Linked DNA regions of Homo sapiens: region 1 is linked to region 2. A link means that fine-mapping ties the variant in region 2 to the expression of a gene that starts in the linked region. Tissue or cell type: whole blood. Region 2 holds a variant in brackets; the other region holds the start of a gene. All regions are shown on one strand. Distances are between the middles of the regions.

Region 1 (4,395 bases), 69 kb after region 2:
CCCCATCAGCTTCCCTGTCCTATTTCTAGTTTTGACAGAAAGCGGAGTCCCTTCACAAACAAGGTTAGCTCTGTAACAAAGCGAGCAAAGAAAACAGCGCAATTGGCATGGCAACTTCCAACAACTTCGAAGAGAAAGCACAACTCTCCAACTTTGTCGTGCTCTCATTGACACATTCCCCACTCACATGGAAAATGCTGTTTTAAAAACTTCCCCTTTTCAATGAACTGTCATGCTATAAAATATTACCTGTTCCTATTTGGAATTTAAAGAGGAGCTATAAAATATTCCCTGCTCCCATTTGCAATTATGTGAACATAATTCTCACCATAAGTTTCACCGAGATGGTAGTTATGTCACCTGCAAAGCCCTTGAAGCTGCAAAGGCCAACTCTGCACACAGGAAGCCATGACGGGCACCCAAAGTCCGGCCAAATGGAAAGCAGCAGGCACCCCGGGAGTGTGAGGAAGGGCCTTCTTTCCATCTCATGCAGCCAAATCCTCCTCCCCCTACCTGGGGCCCTCAACTCTCTACCTCACGTCCTCAACCATCCTCCTGCGACCTCACGCCCCCAAACCCTCCTCCCCCCACTGCACGCCATCAACTCTCCTCTGTCCACCTCACACCCTCAACCCTCCTACCCCCACACCTCATGCCCCTAAACCCTCTTCCCCACACCTCATGCCCCCAAACCCTCCTCCCTCCACCTCACGCCCCAACCCTCCCTCGTCCCACTACCTCTCACCCTCAAACCTCTTCCCCCTACCTCACGCCCTCAACCCTCCTCCCACATCATGCTCTCAAGCCCTTCCCACCAACTCACGCCCTCAACCCTTCTCCCCAACCCTCCTCCCACACCTCATGCCCCCAAATCCTCCTCAGCCCCTAAATCCTCCTCCATCCACCTCACACCCTCAACCCTCTTACCGCCACCTCACGCTCCCAAACCATCCCCACCAACTCATGCCCTCAATCCTCCCCTGCACTTCATACTCCCAAACCCTCCCCACCAACTCACGCCCTCAACCCTCGTCCCTGCACTTCAAGCTCTTAACTCTCCCCTGCACCTCATGCTCCCAAACCGTCCCCCCACCTCACGCCCTCAACCCTCCTCCCCCCACCTCGCGGTCCAAAACCCTCCTTCCCCTCACCTCACACCCTCAACCCTCCCCCACACCTCATGCTCCCAAATCCTCCTCCCACCTCACGTCCTCAACCCTCCTCCTACACCTCACACCTTCAACTCTCCCCCACACCTCATGCTCCCAAACCCTCCCCCCACCTCACGCCCTCAACCCTCCTCCAAACGCCTCACACCCCCAAATCCTCCTTCGTCCATCTCACACCCTCAACCCTCCCCCCTCCACCTTACTCCCCCAAACCCTCCTCCTCCCACCCCACGCTCCCAAACCCTCCCCCCACCTCACAGCCTCAACCCTCCTCCCCCCACCTCACGCTTTCAAACCCTTCCCCCACCTCACGCCCTCAACCCTTCCCCTCACCTCACGCCCTCAACCCTTCCCCTCACCTCACGCCCTCAACCCTTCCCCTCACCTCACACCCTCAACCCTTCCCCTCACCTCACGCCCTCAACCCTCCTCCCTCCCACCTCATGCTCCCAAACCCTTCCCTCACCTCACGCCCTCAACCTCTTCTCCCCACCTCATGCCCTCAATTCTCCTCCCCCCACCTCCCGGCCTCAACTCTTCTCCCCCCACTCCCAGCCTTAACTCTCCTCCCCACACCTCACGCCCCCAAACTTCCCTCCGCCTACCTCACGCGTCCAAACCCTCCTCTCTCCACCTCATGCGCCCAAATCCGTCTCTTCCCTGTCTCACACACCCCTAAATCCTCCTCTCTCTTCCCTCCCAGGCCTCCAAATCCTCGTCTCCTTCAAACCGCCTCCAGAGTTACTCCGAATTCTCTCTCGCCCTCTAAAACTCGCTCTTTTCCCTTAAAATAGCTCCCCTCGATACCTTAATTCCCGCGCGACCCCGGACTCCTGGCTCCCGTAACTCACGAGAAGAAGGGGTCATCCTCAAAACTGCTGTTCAGCATCCTGAACATTCTGGCTCTGTCTTGGGTGGCGGCAGCCGCGGACAGATTGGAAAAACGATGTTAACTCGCCGCGGCCGCGACAAGAGCTAGCCTCCAGTACGGACGACGCCTCACTCGCCGCGGCGCAGGCGGTGCCCGCCGGGATAGGAGGTGCGTGACACCGAGCTGCTTTCCCATTGGACATTGCTCTGTGACGTCACCAGGACGAGGCGGGGAGCAATGCGCCGCTGCCCTGGCAACCGCAATCAACACAGTGGAGGCGAGAAGTCTGGCCTTGCGCCGGCCGGGGAGCTTTTCGCCAAGGCTCCTGTGGGATGGGATAGCTTGTTCTCTGGGCTGCAGGAACCAAAACATTAGACCACCCTTTCTGTGACCTTGGGCATGCCGCCCTCGGTTCCGAGCCGCAAGTCTTTCTTTCGGGGAAAATGAAAAGGGGTCAAGATTTGGACCAGATGACACCCAATGTCCCATTCAACGGTCGCATTCTGTCATCCACAGGAATTAGTCCTGTATCCGAAACATTCTCTGGTAGTCAAAAGCTGTGAGCAAATAATAAGAAAAAATGTGCAAAACGTTTTTTAGTACAGTTAGCAAATAGTGTACTCAGTTGTTGAAGGAAATGGGATGAAGCCTATCAGATTTCAACAAACTTATTTACCTCTTGAGAAAGCTGCTCTCTTTTCGGTTGTCCTTCTGTGTCTCTCTTTCAAAGATCAAGTCTCACTGCGATGCTGATATGTTTTTAACACTTCTCCAGCATTTCTTAACCTAACAGCAGGTTTCAGGCACAGGCCTGCAGCAAGCAGCCATATCCAACTAAAATTCCACTACTATATGTTTTTATTTGCATTACATTTATCAGGGAGCTTTCTATTTATGGCAAGGAAACTGATTTTAAATTTAAATCAGTGATATACATCAAGAGCTAGATTTTGCATTTTTAAGTGAAAAAGTAAGCTATCAAATAGAACAGGTGGAATTTGGATATGGTGGGGCGGAGGGGTAGGCAGAGCAGGGGAGAGGAACATCGTGATAGTGGTACTCAAATTACTAAGTTTTAGAAAACACTATCACGGGGCCTTTCAGGAGCCTGGAGACAGATGGAGGGGAAGACAGAAGAGAGATTAAGGAGAAGAATGGTAAGAGTATAAGAAAAGAGAAAATACATCTTGCATGTCCACCCTTAATTCAGTGAGCTCCCCAGCTTCTCTACGTGGCTGTCTTGCAGAGATAAAGGGGCGTCCATAGCTCATCAGGGCCCCCTGGGATCAGGCCAGAGGGGTGGCACTTTGCCAGCATGAAGAAGTGTGCAAGCCCTGATTTGGAGGTGACAGGAGTAGTCAGGGGTTATTTTGAGAGCTGGAAATTTAATCGTTTGGATCTTTTACTCCCCATCCCCCTTTTTTAGCCAAGTTCTCTGGCAGCTTCCTTCCCCTGAGACTGGTGGCATGGGGTAGGGCAGACTTCACAGCCCAAGATGAGATGGCACAGCCCATCCAGGAAAGAGGATATTTTCTTTTCCTCTGGACTCAGAATAAAGCTCAGAGAACATATACACAAAATTTCGAAAATTTCTAAATAAATTTCAAGGCAAACAAAATTGTTTTATAAGACCTTAAATTGTTTTTCTCTTTAAAATAGTATAAGCACAAGATGTGAAGGAGGCCACACTTAAAAAAAAACTTGAAATGGAGTAAGTTATGTGATAAAAGATGGTGTTAAAATAGTTCTGGATTAAGGCCAAGTAAATTTGTAATGTTACCCTCTAGTTTCTGTGGGAACTTTTTTAGAATCACATTGTTATAAAAGCTTTAGTCCAGGCACAGGTTAGTCAGGGAATTAGCTGAACCTTGTGAAAGCAGTTTGGATCTAATGACAAATGCAAAAAAAAAAAAAAAGGAGGGCAGAGCAGAGTTGGCACTGAAGAGACCTTGACATCATTTTCAGAACTGATGGGTAAGAGGTGGAAATGAAAGAAAGCGTGGGTCAGGAGAGAATGAATACTCCAGCATGGGAGGAATAGAGATGCAGAACAGGACTGAGAGGAGAGGGTCCTGGACTTGGCTGTAAATATAATCATAATAGCTAATATTTATTGAATGTGTGCCAGGCACTGTTGTAGGCACTCCATATGCATTACCTCATTGAATCCTCATTAGCAGTTTTATGGAGTAGAGATGGCTTTTATCCCCATGTATAGATGATGCATTCAAGACACAGAGAAGCTGAATAAATTGCCAAGGTTCACACAGCTAGTAATTGAACTGAGCTGGGTACCTGGAGCTTTCCTCTGTGAGTGCTGGTTATATGGTATGTGAGTGATGAGTCATACTTAAA
Region 2 (4,324 bases):
TCCTGTCAGATTAGCAGTGGCATTAGATTCTCATGGGAGTGTGAACCCCCTTGTGAACTATCCATTCAAGGGATCTGGGTTACGCACTCCTTATGAGAATCTAATGCCTGATGACCTGAGGTGGAGCTAAGGTGTGGCCGCTAGGGCTGGGGAACAGCTGCAAATACAGATTAACATTAGCAAAGAGGTTTGACTGCACAGAGACCATAATAAATCAATTGCTTGCAGATTCATATCAAAACCCTGTCAGTGAGTGTCAAGTGACAAAAGCTGCACTGGTGGCAAGCTTTATAGTGGCAAGTGAGTTGATGTATTTCAGTTGTACAGTTGCATCTGATGGCAGGCTTTAAAGTCTTGCGTGGCCCGCCCATTATTTTATTTACCACTTCCGTCCGCGCTTCCTTCCCACACTGAGCACTTGCCTCAGTCACAGTTTTGGTAAGCCCACAACCTAACTCTAGCCAAAACGAGTAAAAAACAAATGTCACTGGAGAGCTTCTTTGAAAATGGGGAAAGACCCAATGATGAGAAAATGGAAAACTCTAAGACTGCTAATAAAAGGAAAGCTGCATGTGAAAGAAAATACCTAGAGTCCTACTTAAATTGCAGGTTCACTGCAACAGGTGATTCACATTCTCCAAGCCTGCTTTATATAATATGTGGCAAGCGGCTATCCAACAAACCCATGAAACCTTCAAAACTGCTTCGCCACATGGAGACCAAGCACCCTACATAAAAAGAGAAGCCTTTGGAGTTTTTCAAAAGAAAAAATGTGGACACGAAGAACAGAAGCAATTATTGAAGGCCGCCACTTCCATCAAATGTGTCTGCATTGACAGTGTCATTCTTAGTGGCTAACAGCATTGCTAAGCTAAGAAGCTCTTTACTACTGGAGAATTGAACCTGCCTGCTGCTAAGGACATTTGTCATGAACTTTTAGGAGATGCTGCAGTTCAAAAGGTGGCACGTGTGCCTCTTTGGGCTAGCACCATAATTAGAGGAAATGATGAAATAGCAGAGGATATCGAGGCACAATTACTAGAAAGGATTAATGGGGCTGGGTGCAGTGGCTCATGCCTATAATCCCAGCACTTTGGGAGGCCGAGGCGGGCGCATCACAAGGTCAGGAGTTCAAGACCAGCCTGACCAACATGGTAAAACCCCATCTCTACTAAAAATACAAAAATCTGCCAGGCATGGTGGCATGCGCCTGTAATCCCAGCTACTCAGGAGGCTGAGGCAGGAGAATCACTTGAACCCGTGAGGCGGAGGTTGCAGTGAGCCAAGATCATGCCACTGCACTCCAGCTTGGGTGACAGATCGAGACTCAATCTCAAAAAAAAAAAAGAAAAGAAAGGATTAATGGGTCACTCTGGTACAAAATCCAGGTTGATTAATTTACTGAGGTTGACAACAAGTCAACAATGCTTGTTTTTGTGTGATTTTTCAGGTGGATGTGCATGAGGATATGTTATGTGCACTTTTGTTGCCAACCAACACCACAGCGGCAGAACTAGTCAAGTCTTTGAATGATTACATAGCAAAACTGAATTGGTTATTTTGTGTCAGTTTATG[G/C]ACCGACAGAGCAGCTGCCATGACTGGACAGCTTTCTGGTTTCACTATTCGGGTCAAAGAGGTTGCTTCTGAATGTGAGTCTACACACTGAGTCGTCCATAGAGAAATGCTAGCTAGCCAGAAAGTATCAAATGAACTTAACGTTTTGCAGGATGTGATTAAAATTATCAACCACATTAAAGTACGTGCCCTTAACTCACATCTGTTCACACAGCTCCGTGAGGAGATGCACACAGAGCACACACACCTTCTTATACACAGAAATGAGATAGCTTTTTAAAGGTGGATCACTGGCCAGAGTTTCTGAGTTATGAGAGTCATTCCACAGATTTCTTTTTTTTTTTTTAATTATACTTTAAGTTTTAGGGTACATGTGCACATTGTGCAGGTTAGTTACATATGTATACATGTGCCATGCTGGTGCGCTGCACCCACTAACTCGTCATCTAGCATTAGGTATATCTCCCAATGCTACCCCTCCCCCCTCCCCCCACCCCACCACAGTCCCCAGAGTGTGATATTCCCCTTCCTGTGACCATGTGATCTCATTGTTCAATTCCCACCTATGAGTGAGAATATGCGGTGTTTGGTTTTTTGTTCTTGCGATAGTTTACTGAGAATGATGGTTTCCAATTTCATCCATGTCCCTACAAAGGACATGAACTCATCATTTTTTATGGTTGCATAGTATTCCATGGTGTATATGTGCCACATTTTCTTAATCCAGTCTATCATTGTTGGACATTTGGGTTGGTTCCAAGTCTTTGCTATTGTGAATAATGCCGCAATAAACATACGTGTGCATGTGTCTTTATAGCAGCATGATTTATAGTCATTTGGGTATATACCCAGTAATGGGATGGCTGGGTCAAATGGTATTTCTAGTTCTAGATACCTGAGGAATCGCCACACTGACTTCCACAATGGTTGAACTAGTTTACAGTCCCACCAACAGTGTAAAAGTGTTCCTATTTCTCCACATCCTTTCCAGCACCTGTTGTTTCCTGACTTTTTAATGACTGCCATTCTAACTGGTGTGAGATGGTATCTCATAGTGGTTTTGATTTGCATTTCTCTGATGGCCAGTGATGATGAGCATTTTTTCATGTATTTTTTGGCTGCATAAATGTCTTCTTTTGAGAAGTGTCTGTTCATGTCCTTCGCCCACTTTTTGATGGGGTTGTTTGTTTTTTTCTTGTAAATTTGTTTGAGTTCATTGTAGATTCTGGATATTAGCCCTTTGTCAGATGAGTAGGTTGCGAAAATTTTCTCCCATGTTGTAGGTTGCCTGTTCACTCTGATGGTAGTTTCTTTTGCTGTGCAGAAGCTCTTTAGTTTAATTAGGTCCCATTTGTCAATTTTGGCTTTTGTTGCCATTGCTTTTGGTGTTTTGGACATGAAGTCCTTGCCCACGCCTATGTCCTGAATGGTAATGCCTAGGTTTTCTTCTAGGGTTTTTATGGTTTTAGGTCTAACGTTTAAATCTTTAATCCATCTTGAATTGATTTTTGTATAAGGTGTAAGGAAGGGATCCAGTTTCAGCTTTCTACATATGGCTAGCCAGTTTTCCCAACACCATTTATTAAATAGGGAATCCTTTCCCCATTGCTTGTTTTTCTCAGGTTTGTCAAAGATCAGATAGTTGTAGGTATGCGGCGTTATTTCTGAGGGCTCTGTTCTGTTCCATTGATCTATATCTCTGTTTTGGTACCAGTACCATGCTGTTTTGGTTACTGTAGCCTTGTAGTATAGTTTGAAGTCAGGTAGTGTGATGCCTCCAGCTTTGTTCTTTTGGCTTAGGATTGACTTGGCGATGCGGGCTCTTTTTTGGTTCCATATGAACTTTAAAGTAGTTTTTTCCAATTCTGTGAAGAAAGTCATTGGTAGCTTGATGGGGATGGCACTGAATCTGTAAATTACCTTGGGCAGTATGGCCATTTTCATGATATTGATTCTTCCTACCCATGAGCATGGAATGTTCTTCCATTTGTTTGTATCCTCTTTTATTTCCTTGAGCAGTGGTTTGTAGTTCTCCTTGAAGAGGTCCTTCACATCCCTTGTAAGTTGGATTCCTAGGTATTTTATTCTCTTTGAAGCAATTGTGAATGGGAGTTCACTCATGATTTGGCTCTCTGTTTGTCTGTTGTTGGTGTATAAGAATGCTTGTGATTTTTGTACATTGATTTTGTATCCTGAGACTTTGCTGAAGTTGCTTATCAGCTTAAGGAGATTTTGGGCTGAGACAATGGGGTTTTCTAGATAAACAATCATGTCGTCTGCAAACAGGGACAATTTGACTTCCTCTTTTCCTAATTGAATACCCTTTATTTCCTTCTCCTGCCTGATTGCCCTGGCCAGAACGTCCAACACTATGTTGAATAGGAGCGGTGAGAGAGGGCATCCCTGTCTTGTGCCAGTTTTCAAAGGGAATGCTTCCAGTTTTTGCCCATTCAGTATGATATTGGCTGTGGGTTTGTCATAGATAGCTCTTATTATTTTGAAATACGTCCCATCAATACCTAATTTATTGAGAGTTTTTAGCATGAAGGGTTGTTGAATTTTGTCAAAGGCTTTTTCTGCATCTATTGAGATAATCATGTGGTTTTTGTCTTTGGCTCTGTTTATATGCTGGATTACATTTATTGATTTGCGTATATTGAACCAGCCTTGCATCCCAGGGATGAAGCCCACTTGATCATGGTGGATAAGCTTTTTGATGTGCTGCTGGATTTGGTTTGCCAGTATTTTA

What was found. PIP is the estimated chance that this variant, and not a neighbour inherited with it, causes the effect.
Region 1: MLF1 starts here. The variant in region 2 is the best candidate, but not a certain one, in a credible set for the expression of MLF1 in whole blood (INTERVAL, PIP 0.76).

The regions. Positions count from the first base shown.
Region 1 is chr3:158,568,973-158,573,367 of GRCh38, reverse strand. MLF1 (myeloid leukemia factor 1) reads right to left here and starts at 2,174. Exons shown (of 8, transcript NM_001369783.1): 1 at 2,021-2,174. The coding sequence starts at 2,067. MLF1-DT (MLF1 divergent transcript) reads left to right here and starts at 2,302. Exons shown (of 5, transcript NR_104147.1): 1 at 2,302-3,197.
Region 2 is chr3:158,638,129-158,642,452 of GRCh38, reverse strand. No RefSeq gene overlaps it. Among named protein-coding and RNA genes, the nearest start is that of GFM1, 4.2 kb to the left of the region's middle. The variant G/C (reference allele first, on the strand shown) is at 1,576.